2 separate regions of the Homo sapiens genome follow, and region 2 is linked to region 1. The links come from fine-mapping of genetic effects on gene expression. A gene starts in region 1. The other region holds a variant in brackets. All regions are shown on one strand. Distances are between the middles of the regions.

What was found. PIP is the estimated chance that this variant, and not a neighbour inherited with it, causes the effect.
Region 2: its variant is fine-mapped to the expression of GJB5 in testis (GTEx, PIP 0.99). The same link has a PIP of 0.9 or more in fibroblasts.

What each region holds. Positions count from the first base shown.
Region 1 is chr1:34,750,768-34,761,702 of GRCh38, reverse strand. It overlaps GJB5 (gap junction protein beta 5), which reads right to left and starts at 6,656. Exons shown (of 2, transcript NM_005268.4): 1 at 6,508-6,656; 2 at 3,191-4,396. The coding sequence starts at 4,372. The coding sequence ends at 3,551. It overlaps GJB4 (gap junction protein beta 4), which reads right to left and starts at 1,963. Exons shown (of 2, transcript NM_153212.3): 1 at 1,915-1,963; 2 at 1-770. The coding sequence starts at 448.
Region 2 is chr1:34,793,629-34,804,563 of GRCh38, reverse strand. It overlaps GJA4 (gap junction protein alpha 4), which reads right to left. Exons shown (of 2, transcript NM_002060.3): 2 at 8,817-10,367. The coding sequence starts at 10,350. The coding sequence ends at 9,349. Among named protein-coding and RNA genes, the nearest start is that of GJA4, 6.1 kb to the right of the region's middle. RefSeq lists an enhancer at 4,230-4,279 and a silencer at 10,148-10,302. The variant C/T (reference allele first, on the strand shown) is at 6,103.

The sequences.
Region 1 (10,935 bases):
GGAAGATATAGAGGAAGCCAGCATCCACGGCGGCCTTGAAGATGAGGCTCAGCAAGTACGTCCACCACAGTCCGCCCCGCTTCTTGCTCAGGTTGTCGTACAGGGACGGGGCATTGGGCCCGTGTTTCAGGTGGTGCTTGCGCTCGCGTTCCTCGCGGTAGGCCACGTGCATGACCACGAGCAGTGAGGGGCACGTGACCAGGATGAGCTGTAGGGCCCAGAGGCGCACGTGGGACACGGGGAAGAACTCGTCATAGCAGACGTTGGGGCAGCCGGGCTGCTTGGTGTTGCAGACAAAGTCCTTCTGCTCATCGTCCCACACCTCCTCCGCTGCCACCACGTACACCAGCACACGAAAGATGAACACCACAGACAGCCAGATGCGGCTCAGCACTGTGGAGTACTTGTTCACGCCACTCAGCAGGCCCTGCAGAAATGCCCAGTTCATGCTGGCTGTGTCCTGGGTGCTGCACGTGGAAGGTCTATACCTGGGTGCTACCTGCCCACTCAGGCCTTGGGAGCCTTGAGGCCTGGGGGAACCTGGAGATGGGCACCCTTAATGCTGGTGCGATTGACAAAATCTTTTCACAATCACCGTGTCATCATGTCTTCACTCCCAATGACTTGGTAGGGTAGGGATTGCCCCTGTCCTCATTTCACAAAGAGTAAGTGAAGGCCCAGAGATACCTGCCCAATGGTCCACAGATGGAAGTAGCAGAGCTAATCTTGCACTTTGGTCTTCAGGTTCCAAAATCAGGGTCTACCTTATTCTACAAGGTAATAGATACATGTGAAGACAATCATCCTGCATGGATATGCCAGCCAACCTCTATTACCCCAAGTTTCAGCCCATGTCTTCTAAAGAGACCGTAGGAAGGCTTGAATTGGACGATCTGCTCTCCCATCAGCTGCCAGGGCTGGGCCAGGGCAGGAGGGGTGGGAACGTATCCTTATCAGTTGTCAGATCCATCCCACTTTTACTGAACACCAACAAGAGCCTGGCCCCGTGTTGGGGACGTTCACATCAGCCCCTTGGTAAATCCCAGAACAATCTGCATCCTTACTCCTTGCCTCTGGCTCCAGGAAGGTTCTCAGCCCTGGCATTCCCTCCCAAACTAAACAGAGGTGCTTTGGAATCACGGGGACTTGATATCATCCCTGCCAACCCGTGTACTGGTGCTGGGGCCTGAGGGCTGACTGTCTTGACCACAGTGGGTTCCTCTGGAATTCCAACCATTCCAGCTTTAGGAAGGACTGAGGATGGATTCTGGCATGGTCTGGACCCCCCATTTACTTTCTCTGGGGGCACCCCCTCCTCTGTCCATTTAGTGGCTGTTTGCTAGCCGCATTTCCATTATTTCCTCTCAGGCCCCTCTCCTGTGGACTCTGACCTCCACACCCCCTTGTCTGGAGTCCCCATCAGGCCCCATGTCCAACCCTCCCCTCCTCCTACCCTCCTCCTTCCCCATCCCCAATCCCTGACTCTGCTCTCAGCCTCTTCAGACATCGTGTGCCTGGGACACTTTCAGAGCAAGAGGCATCGCCTGTACCCAAATGGTCTATTTACCTGTCTTATTTTTTTGCCAGGCTGTCAGCTGCTAGAGGGCAGGCTCTTCACCTCTGTCTCCCTAGCACCTAGCACTGGCCTGGCCCAGTGAACACACAATAGATGTTTGTTAAACTGAACTGAAACCCATTTCTTCCTGATACCCCCTCTTCCCCAATCTTCTGTCGTCCCTTAGGTCAGCCAGGACATTCCTTCTCCTCCTTGGCACTTCCCTGGGGATCCTCTAGGGACACTGACCCTCTGGCTCCCTCCCTGAAGCCCAGCCCACAGCCTGAGGTCCCTTGGATATCCTCAGCTCAGCTGGTTGCTTGCTTCCTGGCCAGCCTCCTGCCCTATTCGGTCCTCACCCTTCTTGGGTCCAGTAGCTGCTTCCTTGTCCTTGGGCTTGTCTGTTTGCCTCAGGACCTCCCGGAGGCAGCTTTTGTTCCTCTCTCCCTTGCTGGGTGGGGCTTTCTGGGCCAATGAGCCAAGCGAGAGTGATTGGGTGGGCAGGCAGGAGGGCGGACTTCCCCGGGCACATACTCAGAGCAAACACCTGCGGCTCTTCTCTCCTGGCCCACGCCTCCTCTCTAGCCTGGCTGGGTATGGCTGAGCCTGGCTCCCAGGCAGGCAGGTATGTGGGTGAGACTGCTGTGTGGGGTTCAGGAGCCTGATATCATTATGCCTAGGCCTAGGACAGCACCAGTGGGATTGACCCTGTCCCCTTCCCATTGCCTCCTTACCCTGCCTCCTTGCCCTCTCTCCTGCCCTTTTCCTGGGAAGCCTGATACTGAGGTCTCAGCAGCTGACATCTACGGAAAGGGGCAACCTTAATTTAGTGCAGGAACGCATCCCATTCTGGTGGTGGGATATTTCTGGGACTGGAGTCTGGAAGCTCTTGGATTGTGTAGGAAATGGGAGGGGTCAACTATGACTTTTCTAGACCAGGGCACCCATAGCCTTGGTGGAGGCAAGGAATGCAGGTCAGCAGCATGAAATGCCCCAGTTAGCACAGGGCCAGGCACAGCATCGCTGTCCATCCTCTGTGGGTCCTGGGGAAGGCCTCCAGGGAGGCTGGAGTGTGACCTCACATATGCTGGTGGGGGGCCTGGGACCTGTGTTCTGGCTGGGATGATGAAGGTTAATGTGCAGCTAGGGAGGGGCCTTCTGCCTCGTTTCTCACAGGCATTATCAAGCACTTCCTAATACCAATGATTAACATTTATGTGTCCTTTTACAGCTGGCTAGCCCTGTCCACAGCCATGAGCTCATCAGTCCTCAGCACAACCCCACAGGCTAGGTATTATTAACCCATTTTGGAGAGAAGCTTAAGTTACTTTCCCAGAGTCCCGGTGGAACTTGGATTCGACACAGGCATTCTAAGTTCATGAACTTCCCACTGCAACATGGACTAAGCTCCATTCTCTCTGCAGACAACCCACAGGACTAAACTTGCCATGGGGGATAAAGGCTAGATGGGAGCATGAGCAAGTAGCACGTCCCCTGGAGTACTGGGGGCCCCCTTTCTGGAAGAGAGGATGCCCCTCACAGGCTGGATCAAGTGCAGCTCTTCACGGGGGCAGAGAGATTGACACCATGAACGTGTGAGGGTCACGAAGGCCGCACAACCAGAGGGCACCTGGAACCAGCAAATGAGTTGACTTTTATTAAGTTCTGACAGTGGGCCACACACGATGAAGGTGCCCGCATGTGTGTTCTTCTATGAACGCCCTCCTCCCTCCAACCCTGGGCATTGGCCCTCACTATTTCCATTCTAGAAAAGGAAACCGAGCTGCAGAGCAGAGGGGGAACTGGCCCAGTGCCGTCGAGCTGGGGCAGGTGGCTGGAGTTGAGGACTAGGAACTGGCTCCCAGAGCGTCTGAATCCTCTCTCTTGCCTGCCCCTACCTCATGGCTTAGCTCCCCCACTCTCAGGTTGCACCTATGAGAGATGCTAGAGCCTCCCCATCCAGGCCCAACCTGCCAGACCAGTCCAGGCAGCCCCTCACAAGATGGTTTTCTTCACATGGTCTCGGGGGCGGTCTGGTAAGAGAGGAGGATGACTGTCTGAGCCCAGAAAGATGAGGTCACCCGAAAGGAGGTCGTCTTGTTTGCAGGAAGAGGTGGTACCGTGGGGGTGATGACCTGTGCACATGGCTTGAGCTTTCCTTGCTGCCAGGCACTCGTGGCATCTCTTGCTCACCAGGTAGATGAGCTCCACGAGGTTGAGCAGGATGCAGATGGCAGCTGTGGCCACCATGAAGAGGGTGAAAATGTTCTTCTCTGAGGGCTTGGAGATGAAGCAGTCCACTATATTGGGACATGGATCTGCGTGGCACTTGACCACAGGAGGGAGGATATATTTGGGGTAGAATGAGTGGAACACATAGAGAAAGGCGATGTCCACGCTCGCCTTGAACACTAGGCTGCAGACATATGTCCACCAGAGCCCACCCCGCTTCTTGCCGGGGTTCAGGTAGAGGCGCCCACTGTTCTCCCCATGGGCTTCTCGGTGCCTCTTCTCCTGAACCTCCCGGTAGGCCACGTGCATGACCACGAGCAGTGAGGGGCATGTCACCAGGATAAGCTGCAGGGCCCAGAGGCGCACATGGGACACAGGGAAGAACTCATCAAAGCAGACGTTGGAGCAGCCGGGCTGGCGAGTATTGCAGTCGAAGTCCTTGTGGTCATCACTCCACACACGCTCGGCCGTCACCAGGTACACCAGCACGCGGAAGATGAAGACCAGAGACAGCCAGATGCGCCCAAAGGCTGTGGAGTACTTGTTGACCCCACTCAGGAGTCCCTCAAAGATACTCCAGTTCATGGTGGACCCACGCGTCAGCTGCTACTGCAGGGAAACAAGAACAATCATTTCCTACATTTATCACAGACTTGCTCTGAGCACTTTGTAGAAATATGTCATCACATTTCATCCTTACCATCACTAGAGGAGCTGGGTTCTACTACTGTCCCCATTTTGTAGAGGGAGGGAGCTGAGGTTTAGTGGCATTATATACAAGGTTACACAACTATTAGGTGCAGGGCTGGGATTTGAGCATAGGTAATTAAGTCCAGAACCCAGCTCTTACCAATACCAGTGGATAAGGGCAGGTCCAGGGAGCCACTCATTCCTCCCCGGGCCTGAGGCTCTGGTCTTGAGGTTCTGCAGAGTGAAGACTGGTGGAGCTGGGACATTCTGCCTGCTCCCTCTGTTTCAACCCTGGCCCTCCTCCTCAGGGGGGCTGAGCCTTGAGATGGTTCTCTCCTTTCTGAGCACTGCTGCCTCTTCTCAGACAGCCCCTTCCCCAGGGGAACCTGCTCTTTGTCCTTTTCTTGGCTCAGGGATGGGACTGGAAAGGAGGCTGGAACCTTGTCCCCAAGCCCCCATCTGGTCTAACACTCTGTAATTAGCCAGGCAGAGTCCTGCTCAAGTGCCACTCAATGCAATCCAGCTGAAAGCTAAAGCAGGCAGCAATAAATTCTCTTCATACAGTAGGTTTCCTAGAGTAACCTGGTATTCCAGTGTTTCCCAAACAGTGTTCCCTGGAACCCTGTCCCATAGGTTGGCAATAGGAGAAGTGAGAGAAGAGGATTCTGTGTCAAGAAAAGTTGGCAAACATTGGGTTTAGTAAAGTTAAATAGGGTTCTTTTGCTCAACCGTGCTAATAAACTCACTAATAAATTCACCAAAAGAGGTATGAAATATGTGGCATTGCCCAAACTCATTTGCCCACAGAAGCCCTTTTCCTCCTGACATAACATTTATCATCTTGTGGAACAGCCTTGTCAAGACATCAAGTGGGAAATGCTGCTCCTGTCAGTTCTGCTGGTGAATTTGGCCTGATGAACTCACAGAATCAGATTCACCTCCGCGTAAGGACTGTGACTGCTAGGCAGAGTAAGGGGTCCCCACTTCCTCACCCGCGAGTCCTCTGCCTGATTCCTGGAGATGGGGGTGTGTCCATTAAGACCCATGCACTGTGGTTTCAACCAACTGTGCACCCTGGGACCCCAAGGAACCTGTCTGCCTAGCCACTAAAGGGCTCATGATGGCCTTCCCATGCTGGTCCAGGCTGAAGCTCACCAGGCTCTCTGGAGCCTCTGCATGATCAACTGCAAAGCAGAGTAGTGATAACAGCCAATATCCATGAAGCATTCATGCCGTGCCAGGCACCGCTCTAAGTTCTTTGTATGAATCAGTACATTATTCCTTCACAGCAACCTTAGGAAAGGGCATATTTTTTATTCCCAATTTACAGATGAGGAAAGAGGAACACAGAGGGATTAATTAACTTGCTCAACGTCACACAGCTAATAAGTGGCAGAGCTAGGATTTGAACCCAGGCAGGCTGGCTCTAGAGCCCACCCTCCGGGAACTGCCCAGCCTTAGGCCTCAGACCCTTTCCTCAAGTTTCAATGAGCTGCCTGCCTGTTTGTGTGCAGACGGATTCTGTCCTTCCCCTTGTGTGTGGATCCTGGATGAGGGTGGCTGGGGGAACCTTTGCCCACCACCCTGTCTCCACACCACCTGCGCCACTTGGACGGGGGATGGGTGGAGGTGGGGGCCGGGGTTGGGGGGAGCTCTGTTTTGAATCACCATCTTGCATGCTCAGTCCTGTCTAAGGTAGGACTCCTGCAGCTTCTCAGGGAACACCCAGGAAGGCCCCGCCCTTAGCCCCAGGGGCTCTCACCCAGCCCATCCCTACTTGGGGAGGAGTGGGGCAGGGCTTTGCAGGCCCAGGCAGAGCTACCCTGCCTGCTGAGCTTCCGGCCTGGCCCCTGCTCCTACCTTTGCCCGGCTGGGGAGACCTGAAAGAACCCAGAGCCCCTTATTCCTCCACCATCAGGACCCAGGGTGGCAGATGTGTCCAGGCCACATCCCACCACTCCCCAGCAGAGAAGTGTCCTCCTGCCACGTATGCCAAGGGGCAGGGCACATGCGGACACAGATGCCCTTACCTGAGTGACTACTCCTCAGGGCTCTCCTGGCTCCCAGCAGCCGGCAATAGGACTCAGCAAGCAGCTTGAATTTCATATCCAGAAGCGGGGAAGGTTTTCGGGGAAGCCCGTTGAAGCCTGTTTCCAGGACAGAGCCTGCCGGGTGTGCTGGCCCAGCCTGGGAGGAGGAGGAGCTGGGACCTGCACTGCCATTGGCTGGGCCCCAGCCTCCCCAGACTGCTTCTGATGAGGCTCAGGAAACTGAGGGGTTCACTCCTCCCAGGGCGCTGAGCCTCGAATCCTGGTATCCTCTCAGGGGAGAGCCACAGGTCCACTCTGACTCCTTGTTCATCCTCCCATCTGTGGGCTTGTGTGGGAGAAGCTGAGGCCTGAATCCCAGCTCTGCCACTTTCTCACTGTGTGATTTCTTGCCTTCTCTGTGAAAGTGGGAAAAGAACAACACCTACCTCATAGGGTGGATACGTGGATTAACCCAGCCTTAGGGGTGAAGTGCTTAGAACAGTGCCTGACACAAGGGAAGCCCTGTCTACAATTGCCTATAATGCGTGTATACTGCCCAGCACAGGCCTGCCGCATGGTATGTCCTCAAAAAAATGTTTCTTCCTCCTCCTTTTCCTTATTCCTAGGCCTTTTCTTTCTGAGATACAGGGAAGGCAGAGGAGAAGGGAGGGAGAGAGAGACGTATGCACTAGAGAAAATCTCATTTGGATGCATGTTGTCTTTGGGTTAAAAAGGCCAAACCCAAGCCAGGCAGGAACCACAGGAGAGGTGGAGAAGGTGGGCAGGGGCACCTGGGGAAAGCTTCTCATTAGTGCACAGACACGGTCTTTTGGCCTAATTGACTTCCAAGGTGCCCTGTATCAGCAGGTCACTTGGGGTCAGGATTCAACAGACAAAGCATCCAGGAGCCACAAACACCTCATGTCCACAAGCAAACACAATGTAGCTTCACATGAGCATACTCTTACACACAGGCCACAATTATGGGCACAGTGTTGCACACACATGCAGCAGTGGCTTTATTTTATTCACTGCTCTATCCCTTGTGCCTAGTATGGTGCCTGGTGTCTTGTCCAGTTAGGCTTCAATTTATATTTATTGAATGAATGATGTGTGAAATGCACACACCCTGCAGAGAGTCACACATTTCTATACTCCATGCTCTTTCCAAAAAGCTGTTGCCAAGTACAGGAGAGAGGAGGCATATAAAGAGATCAGTTACAACATTGTGAGAAGTCCTAGAAAAGACACAGAGAGAGAAGGGAGTTTTAAGTTCTGCCAGAGGGAGAGCCGGAGAAGGTAACATTTAAGCTGGGTCTTGAAGGATGTATAGGAGTTTACCAAGAAGAGATGCTGAGGAGGGGCCTTTGAGGCAGTGGGCACATAGCGTGCAGAGGACCTTTGTGAAAAATAATGGAAGAGCATTGGAGAGTGGGCTGGGTAGTGGTGGGGACACCACATGGCAAGGAGCCTGGAAGGTCAGCAAAGACCTTCCAGACCATGAAGGACCTGGAATGTCATGCTAAGGAGTTTGAATTTATCTTGGGTGCAGAGGGAGGCATGAGGGAATTCTTTTCTTTTTTCTATTTTTACATTTTGTATTGTGCTGAGGCAGGAAAAAGGAAGAGACATGGTCAGATTGGTACATTTGATTCTCATTATTCAAGGTAGTTATAGTCTATGAGTCACCATGAGCACCAAGTTAGTGAATATTGAAGCATTCTTCCTAGAGGACATATGAGGTTAGGTTCCTGCAAGCTTCTGTTTACAATGTGGTTATCAACTGATCAATACAGAAGTCTGTTTTATGTGTGTTTCTGAAGACACCTTGTTTAATATATATTGTTGACTCATTAATATTGGACTCATAGCCAACACCACTATAACTCATGACTGAATGAAGCTTGTCTAACACACATATTTTTTCCATAAGGCTCATCGTAGCCTTCGTGTGCTTAGAAACACTAGATGGCACTTCAGCACTGTACTCGGGGCCATTTCAAACAGCAAATCCCCAGCAAAAAGCAAGAAATGAGAAAAACATGGCACCAAGTAGACCTCCAATAGAACATGTTTATAGCATTAGAGCTGAAAGGGGAAGGCAGAATGTCACCTTGTTCAGCCACAGCTGGGAACACGTGCATTGGGAGACTCAAATTTTTGCCACTCTGTGCATGTTATAAATGGCCATGAAAGTGTCTTAAGTGTAGATTTTGGCTTAGGAATAAATTGTGGTGAGCTGGAGAATGCACAATACGGAATCTGTGAATAATGAAGATCAACTGTATGTTTAGAAAGCTTCCTCTGTTTGAGAAAAGAGGCTGGAGGGGCTTGTGAGACCGGTATGAAAGTTACTGCAATGATTTAGGCAAGAAATGAGCAAGAGGGTTGGATTTGGGAAATAGCTGGTAAATACAGCTGGCAGCTTTGGGGGACTGACTTGGGGGACTGACTGGATGTAGGATGTGAGGCAGGAGGCTGACCTAGGATGGTTCATAGGTCACTGGTTTTGGTGATTTGATAGGTGATTGGGCCACTGATAGAAATAACCCTATGAGGTAGGAACTCCAATGGCTCCATGTTCCAGATGGGAAAACTGAGGCCCAGAGAGGCTAAGAAACTTGCCTGGGCTTGCACAATCAGTAATCAGGAGAGCTGGGGGTGGAATTCAGGTAGCTGAGCTCCAGAGCCAGTGCTTTTAACACCGTAATGCTTCAACATCTTCATACCCAAGGATTTGGCAACACTGTCGGCTCCTTTATGCTTGATAAACAGAATCATTTACTCATCGTCAAATATTCATTAAGCACCTACTATGTGCCACGTGTTGCGCCTGATAGTGGAAATAAATCAGTAAGCATGGTTCTCATGGTTCAACCTCTGGGCCTGGTCCTCTTGAAGATTACAGTCAAAGGAGGAAATAAGACATTAAACACACACACACACACACACACACACACACACACACACACACCAATAACTCTAAAAATGCAATTGTGATAGAGTCACAAAGGAGAAGCACAGTGCCAAGAAAATGTATAATGGAGAACCAGACCTAGTTTCAGGAAGCAGGGAAAGCCTTTCTGAAAGTGTAAGATTTAAATTGAGGCCTGGAGCTTTCTCCTCTGCCAGTAACCCTCTGCCTGCTTCCTAAAATGCCAGCACTCTCCAGAGCTCTCCTGGATTCTCTTCTCTCAGTGCACTCTCCACAGGCTGTGGCTCCTACCACCAGCTTGGGGCTGAGGACTCCAACTATTGCTGCCACCTCGTGACCCTGGATAGTTCATGTGGCTCTTACTCAGCACACGTAGCACTGAACTCATTAACTCCAAACACATCTGTGATGAACCTATGCACCACTTTTCCCACTCACTCCCCCTGCTATGCTTGGAATGTGTCCCCCAATGCTCTCATGTATTGAAACTTAACCCCCAATGCAACAGTGTTGGGAGGTGGGACTTTAAGAGGTAATTAGGTTAGTTGGATTAACATCGTTATCATGGGAGTGGGTTTGTTATCATGAAAGTGGGCTTATTATCAAGTGAGAGGTTTCAATGGAGGCTTCATGGCTGTTCTTTTACTGAGGGATGGGACTCAGGGGATGCTGGAAATCCAGGAGGGAGCTGGAGGTGGGAAGGGTGGAAGGTGGGCATGACAGAGAACAGGCAAACCTGGAAAACAGGGAAAGAGTTGTGTGATGGGCAGAATCCACACAGACCTGGGCTCAAACCCCATTTCTGCTCCCTAACTATGTGGCCTTGGTCAACTCATTTTTTCTCTCTGAGCCTTAGTTTCCTTTCTTTCGAATGTGGAAGGGGTCGGGTGGTGCTGTTGTGAGGAGTGCTTGAGAGGATGTATATAAACATGGTGATTTACAGCTGGCATGTCTCACACATTCATTTTCTTCCACTCTGTGGGCTGTTGCTCTCTGACCTGTTGGGTGGACATTTGCTTTTCCTCTGGGACGAATGGTCATGCTCTTCCCCTATGATGTGCCTCCTTTCCTAGGCCTCTAGACCTACTCCACCAGCTCTACCCATGCTTCCAAGCTCAGTCCGAGGAGGCTGAAACTGGGATGTGCCCCTTGGTCTCTCCCTACGATTTCTGAGGCTCTGCATGAGCTGGGTCATGGAGAGGCTCACCATTCCTGAGACTGGGGCCCAATGCTTCTAGGTATCCTCGTCCCTCCAGCCCGGCCCACACTAAAGCTGAATCATTGGTCTCAATAACACAGTGTTTTGCCGTCTCTGGGCGGGTTGTCTCAGTTCCATTTGGGGCCTCTCTTTTAGAGGATTGAGGGCTCATGAGCAGTTCTTGAAGCTTTGGCCACTGGCTGCCACATTTCCCCTTGCTAACAAGAGTTCCAAGGCCAAGGACCTTCCTGTTGGGCTCTTGCCTGGATGCTCAGAATCTCTGCTGAGTCATGGT
Region 2 (10,935 bases), 43 kb before region 1:
TTTAATTGGTACAGATGTCATATTTGTCACTTTCATTGCCCAAATTCCCAATTACATAAACTCATATTTAGTAATAGCTTAGTGGCATCCCACTTATAAAAGGCTCAGGGATTTTAGTTGGAAATATTTCCAATTTACTATAAAACTAGCATAACCTTAGTTATAAAACATCTTCACATGGCATACACAGATGTCAAGGAACAATTTTACTTAGAGCTTTTGGTAAAAATTTAATTAAAATGAGAATATGTGGTGTGATGAGATAAGGATGCCTGAATACTTAATTCAAATAAGCATTTTTTTTTGTGAAGAAGTCTAAATTACTAAGAGAGATTTATGACAAAGAGAATTTGAATAGATAACTAGTTGCTGAAGACAGTGAAAAAGTTTTTGAAGAATGACATATAAGAAAGACACTGAATCCAGTTGGCTTTACAGGCAAGTAACGTATCCAAACTTTCAAGGAATTATGCTATTAAAATGATTGCAGGCCTGAGTATAGGATTCCACATTGAAAATTGTTTTCCTCAGGATTTTGAAGGCATTGTTCCACTGTCTTGTAGCTTCCAGTATTGTTACTGCAAAGTCTGAGGTCACTCCGATTCTTGAGCCTATGTGTGAAACTATGTTCTTCTCTGGAAACTTGTAGGCTCATCTCTTTGTCTCTGGCGTTCTGAAAGTTTTCAGTAGAGTGGACCTATACTCATCCATTGGGCTGGGCACTCAGTGGCTCTCTCAATCTAGAGATTATTGAATTTCCTTTGATTATTTACATTCCTATTTTTTCTACTCCTCTTTTCCGAAGCTTCCGTTAGACCTTCTGGACTTGTCCTCAAATCATTTTTTATATTTTCTACTGTTTGTATCTTTGTATTTTATTCTAGTTTCTGGGGAATTGCTTAACTATCTTCCAGCCTTTCTATTGAAGTTTTCAATTCTGCTGTCATACTTTTACTTTCCAATACCTTGGTTTTGTCATTGTTGTTCTCTATGTAGCTGTTTCTTAGAGTATTGTCTTATTTCATGGCTGCAATACCCTCTTTATCATATCAGAAAGATGTGATAAAATCTTTCTGAATAAAGTAATATTAGTTTTAAAAATATTTTATTCTCCATGCATAATCTCTCTTTTCTCTGGAAAGCTTTATTCTGATTATTTTAGACTCTTTCATATAAGATGGTTTTCTCAAATGCCTGGGATCCTCACCCATGTGCTCATATTTAAAAGAGGGTCACTAAAACGCTGTCTGACCAAAAGAGAACCCTACTGTAAACTGTGGACTTTGGGTGATAATGATGTATCAATGTAGGTTCATCAAGTGTAACAAATGTACCTCTCTGGTGGGGGATGTTGACAGTGAGGAGGCTGTGCATGTGGGAAGTGGGCAGAGGATATAAGGAAAATCTCTTTATCTTCTGCTCAGTTTTGCTGTGAACCTAAAAATATTCTAGAAGAGTATTTTTGAATATTTAGAAGATAAACTCTGTTCAACAAATACAAACAAAACATTTGTTTTGGACACTCTAACCATTGCAGTAGGCAAATAAAAACCCAACTTAATGGAGAAAAAAAAAGCTGTTTGGACGATCTGTATGCATGATTAGGACTTCCTTACTGTGATTTTCATTGTGTGGCCATCTAGCTGTCTATTTCCTTGGACAGCCCCTGGTGCCCATATCTTTAGGTTTTTTCCTTTGGATCTGTCAGATCCACTGGCAACACTCTTCCAAACACTTGCATAGAAAATACATACCTGGCTTCCAGGATTCTCAAGAAAAGTATAAGTAACAAAAGGGAAATGGATTCTACCAGATACTAAAACTGTATTACATGCAGGGTGTGGTGGCTCATGCCTGTAATCCCAGCACTTTGGGAGGCCGAGATGGGTGATTGCTTGAGCTCAGTTGTTCGAGACCAGCCTGGGCAGCATAGTGAGACCCCCGTCTCCACACAAAAATACAAAAATTAGCCATGCATAGTGGTGTGTGCCTGTGGTTCCAGCTACTGGGGAGGTTGAGGTGGGAGGATGGCTTGAGTACAGGAGGTGGAGACTGCAGTGAGCCAAGATCGCACCACTGCACTCCAGCCTGGGCAACAGAGCTAGATCCTATCTCGAAACCAAACCAAACCAAACCAAACCAAACCAAACCAAACCAAACCAAACCAAACCAAACCAAACCAAACCAAACCAAACCAAACCAAACCAAACCAAACCAAACCAAACCAAACCAAACCAAACCAAACCAAACCAAACCAAACCAAACCAAACCAAACCAAACCAAACCAAACCAAACCAAACCAAACCAAACCAAACCAAACCAAACCAAACCAAACCCCGAAAAGATTGTGTTAGAAAGCTACACTAATGAAAAGAGTGGTAGTATCACATAAATTGACAGATTAATGGAACAGAATTATAGGTAGTCTATAAAATGTAGTCTGTTACATATAGTATAGTGAAGCTGTTATCACAAATTAGTATAGGAAGGATTATCCAATAAGTGCTGCCAAAACCATTGATTATTTGGGGGGAAAAGTTAGCACTTCACCTTATATGCTAAAATTAGGTTGTTTGTTCATGCTTTGTCTTTTGTTCAATAATTATTTTTCTCCTATTATGTTCAAGCCAGGTTAAAGTATAAAATTAAAAATAATATTGAAAAGGGGATAACAGTGTAAGCCTAAAGTTACTGGAAAGGAAAAAAGTCCATAAATTTGACTACATAGAAATTAAAAATATCTGCAGACAAAGGAACAAAATAATACAGAAAAATTTTTATAACATATGCCAGATGAAGGGTTGATATCCTCTACCTATAAAGAGTTTATACAAGTTGATCAGAAAATAGTAAAACCTGATAGAAAAATGGGCAAAAAACATTCATAGAACAAACATAAGTGCTGAAGAAGTATACGTTAAAAAATCTACCCTCACTAGCCAGGCATGGTGGCTTATGCCTGTAATCCCAGCACTTTGGGAGGCCGAGGCGGGTGGATTGCTTGAGTCCAGGAGTTTGAGACCAGCCTAGGCTACATGGTGAAACCCCATCTCTACAAGAAAATGCAAAAATTAGCCCGGCATGGTGGCACGCACCTGTAATCCCAGCTACTAGGGATGCTGAGGCACAAGAATTGCTTAAGCCTGGGAGATGGAGGTTGTAGTGAGTTGAGATTGTACCACGGCACTCCAGTCTGGGAAACAGAGTAAGACCTGCCACACACACACACACACATAGAAGTCTACACTCACTAGTAATCAGGCCTCCCTCATGAAACGTGATACCATTTTTTCCCTGTTTAATAATTAATAATAGGCAAAGCAATTTAAAAATTACAATAATGCTTGTATGCATACCTTGAAATGAGCACTTTCATACAATGCTATTGAACGAATAAGTAATTTTTTTTTCTGGAAAGCAGCTTGGCAGTCTGTATCAAAAACAACCCTGAACAACAAATATATCAAGCCCCTTCCTCCTTCTTCAGAGCCTTGAAAGTGCTATTCCGTCTACCTGGAATGCTCTTCCCCATCTCTTCCTAGCTCATTCCTTCTCACGTTTTAGGCTTTCTGAAGCCCACCTCCTGCAGGCAGGCTTCTATGACCTCAGGCTAGATCAGATTCTCTCTCTCTTTTTTTTTTTCAAAGCCTGATCCATCAGCCAGTGTTTTGGAAGCCAATTTTGGGGAGAAGGCAGAAGGACCCACTGTTCAGTATGTAAACTTCCACTTAATTCCTCTGTTTTATTTATGGTGCTCCTACCCTCAATTATGCCTGGCATTTCTCGATTTTTTTTTTTTTTTTTTTTTGAGACAGGGTCTCGCTCTGTTACCCAGGCTGGAGTGCGAGTAGCTGGGAATACAGGTGCACACCACCACACCTGGCTAGTTTTTCTATTTTTAGTGGAGATGGGGTTTCGCCATGTTGGCCAGGCTGGTCTCGAACTCCTGACCTCAAGACATCCGCCCGCCTCCGCCTCCCGCCTGGGATTACAGGCGTGAGCCACTGCACCTGGCTGCATTTCTCTGTTTTATCCTCTCCAGAGAATAAACCTCCACCTCTTCACAGAGTTGGGAAGATGTGGTCACCTAGCTGCTCAGTGCAGGGATGGAATCCCCAGGCCGAGGTGCTTTCAATGAACTCTCCTGTTTTCAGCTCCACCCCAATTCCCACTCAGAGGCAGTTTGTGCTTTCATTTCTTGTAATTTGTGCTTTTCTGTGTTTCTGAGTCACCCACAATGAATCACTTTCACAATCAGATAAAAGCCCCTAAATTTTCTTTATTTAAGATTTCCTACTTTGTGACCCAGTAATTTTACTTCTTGGAATATCTTTTTCTTTTAAGGAAATAGAAATTTGGAAAACATTTAGGTACAGACATCTGCATCACAGTACCATTTATAGTAGAGGATGATTAGTTGCAAACATCCTAAAAATCCAATATCAGGGTCATGGTTTAAGTAGGCACTGATAAAGCCTTTAAGTGGTATTTCCAAAAATATGTTCTTAACGACATGGGAAAAAACTAATGATTTATCATAAAATGAAAAAAGCATAATATAAAATTGTAGGTATATCTTTACTAAGATTTTATTTTAAAATATGCATGGAAGAAGGCTGGAGGGAATTACTTCTGAATATTAACAGTTGTTGCCTCTGGATGGTAGGATCTCATTCACTGTCTACAATGATCATGCATTATCTTTATAATTCAAAAGAATTTATATATATGTAAAGGAGGAGAAAATAAAAAAAATTATAATCTTAGGTTGCATTAAGAGAGGTAGAAGTTTTGGGGCAAGAGAGGCAATAATCTGGATTCGGACCAACTGGAGTGTCGTATCCAGCATACAGGGAGGGTGGCATATGTTAAGAGGAAATTAGGCCAGGCATGGTGGCTCACGCCTGTAATCCCAGCACTTTGGGAGGCCGAGGCAGGTGGATCACCTGAGGTCAGGAGTTTGAGACCAGCCTAGTCAACATGGTGAAACCCCATCTCTACTAAAAATACAAAAATTAGCCAGGCGTGGTGGTTCACACCTGTAATCCTAGCTACTGGGGAGGCTGAGGCACAAGAATTGCTTGAACCCAGGAGGCAGAGATTACAGTGAGCCAAGATCCTGCCACTGCACTCCAGCCTGGGCAACAGAGGGAGACTTCGTCTCAAAAAAAAAAAAAAAAAAAAAAAAAGAGGAAAGTAAACAAATTGCAGGTTGGCCAGAGACTTCTGGAAATCAGGATTATCTGGAGGAATAGGAGGAGAGCAGGCTCAGGCTGAACCTGGTGGCTGTCTGTATGTGGCTGCAGTACTGTTTGGGAAGGACAGAACTGGGTGTCCTGTGGCTCTGGGATCAGAGCCAAGTCTGGAGAGAGATTCTTAAAGGTGGAGAGAGATGTTCTGACAATCCTGTGATGGATACCTCTTCCTGCAAACGTCAATAGTCATGCTGAGGTTGGTGTGAAAACGAAGAATCCCCAGTCAAGGAACTGGAGGTGATAGAACCATGAGGCTGGCAAGCCAGTGGCCAGTGAGCCAGCATGTTAGACTGGGAAGAAGTTTTGACATCACCCAGCTTGACAGCCTTGTTTATGTGCAGCCCGTGATGTTCTCATGCTCCCATCCGTCATAGATAAGATGACCTTGGGTTATGCAAAATTCCCAGTGCACTCCACATAACCCCATCCCTGTCTTTCCTACTTAGGAAGGCAATGTGAATTTAAGCGACTGGAATTAATCTTATTGTAGAAACAACCTTGACTTTTTTCTGATTCATGCGAAATAGCACATCACTCATGAGTTTCAGATCAATGATCAGTGACAGGTTACCACACGCAACGCTCCTCATACCTAATTGTCACATACGTGTTTCTCATCCAACCCTTTCATTTCACAATGGGGAAATTGAGGCCTAGAGAAGGGAAAGAGCCATAGTCAAGTGCGTATGAGAGGTGTGAGGTAGGAGCCAAGTCTCCTAACTCCAAACGATGGCTCTTTCTCTAACTGAGAGCCACTAGCTGTCAACTTAGATTTTGGTTGGTGGCAGCAAGGGATAGGCTGGTGAGAGGAAGAAGGAAACAAAGGAAAAGAAAGGTGTGAACCTGC[C/T]GTGTTTCATCCTAGTGACATCACCAAGGAGATGCCTGCGTCCAACAAACCTAGCATTCTCCAGAGCCCCGTGCCTGACCAGTGCTTGGAGGTGAGGTGGGGCCACGAGGGTGGTGGTATGGGTTGAATGGTGCCTCCTGCCAGATATATTGAAGTTTTAACCCCTAATGCCTCAGAATGTAACCTTATGTGGAAATAAGGTCTTTTCAGAGGTAATCAAGTTAGATCAAAGTCATTAGGGTGGGTCCTAATCCAATATGAGTGATGTCCTTATAAAGAGGGGAAATTTAGACACAGAGACACAGGTAAAGGGAGAACACCAGGTGAAGATGAAGGCAGAGATGGGAGTGATGCGTCTAAAAGCCAAGGAGTGCCAAAGATTGCCAGCAAAACACCAGAGCTGGGAGAGAGGCCTGGAACAGTCTCCCTCACAGCCCTCGGAAGGAACCAGCCCTTCGGATATCTCGATCTCAGACTTCTGGCCTTCAGAACTGAGAATCAGTTTCTGTTGCTTAAGCCGTGCAGTCTGTGGTACTTTGGTACAGTAGCCTTGGCAAGGGAATACAGGTGGGATGGGGCTTACAGCCACTCTTCTCTCCATAAAGTCTTCACCATACCCCCAACCCAAATGGTGTGATCCCAGCCCCATGACACTGTCCTCACTCTTAAACCCCCAGCCCATATGTGCTTGTGTTTGTGTGGCCGCCAGTCTAGGACCCAACTTGTCTTGCCAAAGGTCCAAGTTCCTGAGCCCCAGCCTGACCCCGGCTCTGACACCAAGCTCAGAGTGGGTGAGCTTTGAGGGAGGGGAAGGATGCCATTTCTGCTCACTGAAACCTTTCTTCTCCTACCTTTCCAAAGTAGGAAAGGTTGGGGATAACAGAAACACCAAACCAGGGCTCTGAAGCCCCTCAGGTAATGCTGGCTCTAACGCTGGCTTCTAACCTGCAGCCTCTGGCCTCTCACCCTGGCTGGAGGAGAATCTCTTAGACAGGGACCTCAACTTCCAGTGGTCATGGACTTCCAGTATGTGAACAGCCTCCTTTTTGAGGCTTTCAGGATTGAGCCCAGCCTCACTCAATCAAGCAGTGGTTCAGATCCCTGAGAGGTAGAGGTCATTGCCGGAGACTAGCTGGAGAAGTCAGAGAGCGCTTCCTGGAGGAAGAGCCTATGTTAGTCTGGCTGAAAGGTGTGAGCTTAATTTTACTGCATGACTACTGAGCCAGGCACAGTCACATACTTTCACTTATTTGGTTTCCAGTCAGTTGTGAGGCAGGTGATGTTATTTGCATTTTAGAGGTTAGAAAACTGAGACTCAGAGAAGCGAAATGATTGACTCCAGACCACAGCATTTAAATTCAGGGCCCTCTGGTGATAAGCTCATCTCACTCTTCCGCACCAAGCCCTTTTCCAGGGTCCAGTAGTATTTAAAGGATTTGTGGAGTTTCGAAGTGTGGGGGGCAGGGACGCTGCATGCTGACACAGGGGCAGGGTGGGAACATACTGGGTGAATCTGGGAGCCATGAGGAAGCTGGCCTGATCGATTTCAGCGATTCAGAGGGAACAATGGGAACCACAGCTGGAAAAGGAAGAGGGTCGTAATTTATTAGGCTGAGCATTCAGACTCGCTGGGTAAGCAGCGAGTGAGCGAATGAGCTCTGGATGAGGGGTACAGAGCTGGTGTTTTCAACACCCATCCTGATGGGAGAGGGGCCAACTTGCCAACCTGCTGTGAAGGCATTGTGGCTCTCAAGGAGAAGCATGTGGCCACATCAGAGAGACCCCCTTTCCTTCTTCAACCCTAGCCCCAGATGTCCCTGGGAAGGGAGGACAACCAGCTTGCCTCTGAGGGTCACTACCTAGTGCTCTCCCCTACCTGGGTCGCCTCCACATAGGTCAATTCTGCCAGCAGTGGGCCCATCCTCAGCCACGCCTCCTGTATCTAGGTGGCTCATCAGGACCTAAATGCCCCCTCAGCCTGTCAATCCCTCCTCTGACTTTGCACAAACAGTTTTCTCCGCTTGAATGCTCAGTGTTCTCTTTCCCTCCCCAGTGAACTCCTAGTCAAGACCCAGTTCAATTGTTCATTTTGTTTCTGCAGCCTTTGTGGCTCATTGGCAAGATTCAGTCTCTTCCACTTCTGTACATTGCCATTGTCCTCACTGAGGTCTGGGTGCATGGAGAGCAGATATGAAGCAAATCCTTCAGTTGCTTCTCCTGGTGGGCAGACTAGAAAGGGCCAAGGTAGGAAGGACTAGTGACCTAAACCTCCCTTCCCAAATACCAAGGATGAGGATGAGGTGGGATGAGTGCAGGGCCCATCTGAACTGGACTGCGAAGGGCTTGGCTGGCAGGCACGCTTGGAGAGCAAACCATCCAGTAAGGAAGCACTTTGCAGGGGGCAGTGTGGCCAGGGCGACGATGGGCATGGGGGAGGGAGGGCAAGGACGTTTATGCTTTGACCACTGATTAATGCGCTGGAGCAGTGGGGATGAAAAGAAGATAGTGTCTGAGGCATTTCAAAAGGCAGAGCATTTAGAAATCAGGGCTGTTGGAGGCAGAAGGTATGAGTTTGAGGGTTCAAGGTGTTGGCTGGAATCGGGGGTTATAGAGACCAAAGAGATTATACAGGACCAAGAAGTAAAGGAAGCCTGGGCAAAATAACTCTATCCCCCAACCCCCAGCACATCATGATAGCATCAATACACACCTACTTGTGATCAAGTCCTGTTTATTTCAGAAGCTTGAACAGTAGAACTAGGAAGGAGTGATGAAAACAAGGCACCAGTCCCCTTGACAGGGCCAAATCCGGCACAAGCTCTGTCTGTGCGATCAAGGCTGACCCAGCAGCCTCAATCCGCCTTTTCCTGTGAGGAGAGGGTTTGAGGACAACCTGCGCACAGGTGACTGTTCCATAGGGTGAGGTTGGGGTAAGTTGGCTCTGGGTTCCTCTGGATCAGCTGCAAAAGGCCAGAGGGCCCCCAGTACCCTTGGCCAAGAGCATTCCATGCTGACTCTGTCTGTGCTCAGGCAAAGCCACATTCTGGAGAGGAAGCCGTAGTGCCTGGTGGGCACCAGGAAGGCCTCAGGTGTTCAAGAACAACTTGCAATGAGGCTCCATGGCCAGCAAGCACCTGCTTCCCCAGCCCAGTCATCTCTGCAGAGCCTTCCAGGAGGGGGCAGGGGGCATCCCAGGCAGCCAGACTTCTCAGGACCCCTCTGTTGGGTGACATAAGCCACAGGCCTCTATACATACTGCTTCTTAGAAGCAGAGCTGCTGGGACGACTTGGGGGTTTTTGGCCATTCTGAGGGGGTGGGTCCAGGAAGAGAGGGGGCCTGGAAGACGCCAGCCTCTCCTCTGTGGTCAGGTTGGCCCAGTTCTGCTCACTGGATGAGAGCCCATTGTAGGTGGGGCATGGTGGGGATGAGGGCCCCTGGCCCACGGGGAGGTAGAAGAAGACCTGGTCCGTGTAAGGGTCTGAGGAGGTGCCCTGGGTCGGGGGTGCGTCTTGGCCTTGCCGTGCCCTCATCCCCCGGCTGAGGCAGCGACACAGCAGGTGCACCAACTCCAGCAGGTTAAGCACCAGGGAGATGAGTCCAACCACCAACATGAAGATGATGAAGATGGTCTTCTCCGTGGGGCGAGAGACAAAGCAGTCCACGAGGTAGGGGCAGGGTGCTCGCTGGCACACAAACACGGGCTCCATGGTCCAGCCGTACAGGCGCCACTGGCCATAGAGGAAGCCTGCCTCTAGCACACTCTTGCAGAGCACACTGGCGACATAGGTGCCCATCAGTGCTCCGCGGATGCGCAGGCGACCATCTTCTGCCACCGAGATCTTGGCCATCTGACGCTCTACGGCCGCCAGCGCCCGCTCCACCTGTGGGTCCTTGGCCGGCAGTGCCCGCAGCTCCCCCTCCTTCTGCCGCAGCCGCTCTTCTCGCCGAGACAGGTAAATGACATGGCCCAGGTAGACCAGGGTGGGTGTGCTGACGAAGAGGAACTGCAGCACCCAGTAGCGGATGTGGGAGATGGGGAAGGCCTGGTCATAGCAGACGTTGGTGCAGCCTGGCTGGGCCGTGTTACACTCGAAATCTGATTGCTCGTCACCCCACACTGACTCGCCGGCCAGGCCCAGGATGAGGATGCGGAAGATGAAGAGCACCGTCAGCCAGATCTTACCCACCACGGTCGAGTGCTCCTGGACCTGGTCCAGCAACTTCTCCAGGAAGCCCCAGTCACCCATGGCTCCCGGGCCTCCGTCTGCAAGGAGACAGAGCACGTCAGTGTGTCAGCATGGCATCCTTCTCGTTCGCCCAGCAACAAGCCTGCAGGGAGGTCTGCCACGCCCGTTCTACCTACAAAGAAACCCAGGCTCAGGAAGGGGAAGGACTGGCCTGGAGGCTCCCACTCAGCAGTGCAGGCAGGACCCAACCCAGATTTTTGGATGATGGCTGCCCACCTCTTTGTATGGTCTCATTCTGCTTTGGCTAAGGTCCCTGCCTAATCAGACATCTATGTCCCTCTTGTCCCCGAGCCACTGCCCCAGGATGGACACAGGCCAAGGAAATCTGGGTGGAGTTGAGGCTCCTTTGCCTATGGGAACAGAATTTGAGGAACTTATCCAAAGTTGTGCAGCTGGGCTAAGCCCTTCCTCCCTTTTGCCCAAGGCTGGCTACCCCCAGACAGTGGGAGCTAGTGATGATGGTAGAGGTGTTATCTTCTGCTTCTTAGGGGGCTCAAAGCCTCAGGTCCCTGCTCCCCGCCTCATATCTTACCCAGCTGGCTTCACTCTAATCTTTGAGCCTGCAGGGGCTGGGTAGTGGAAGGG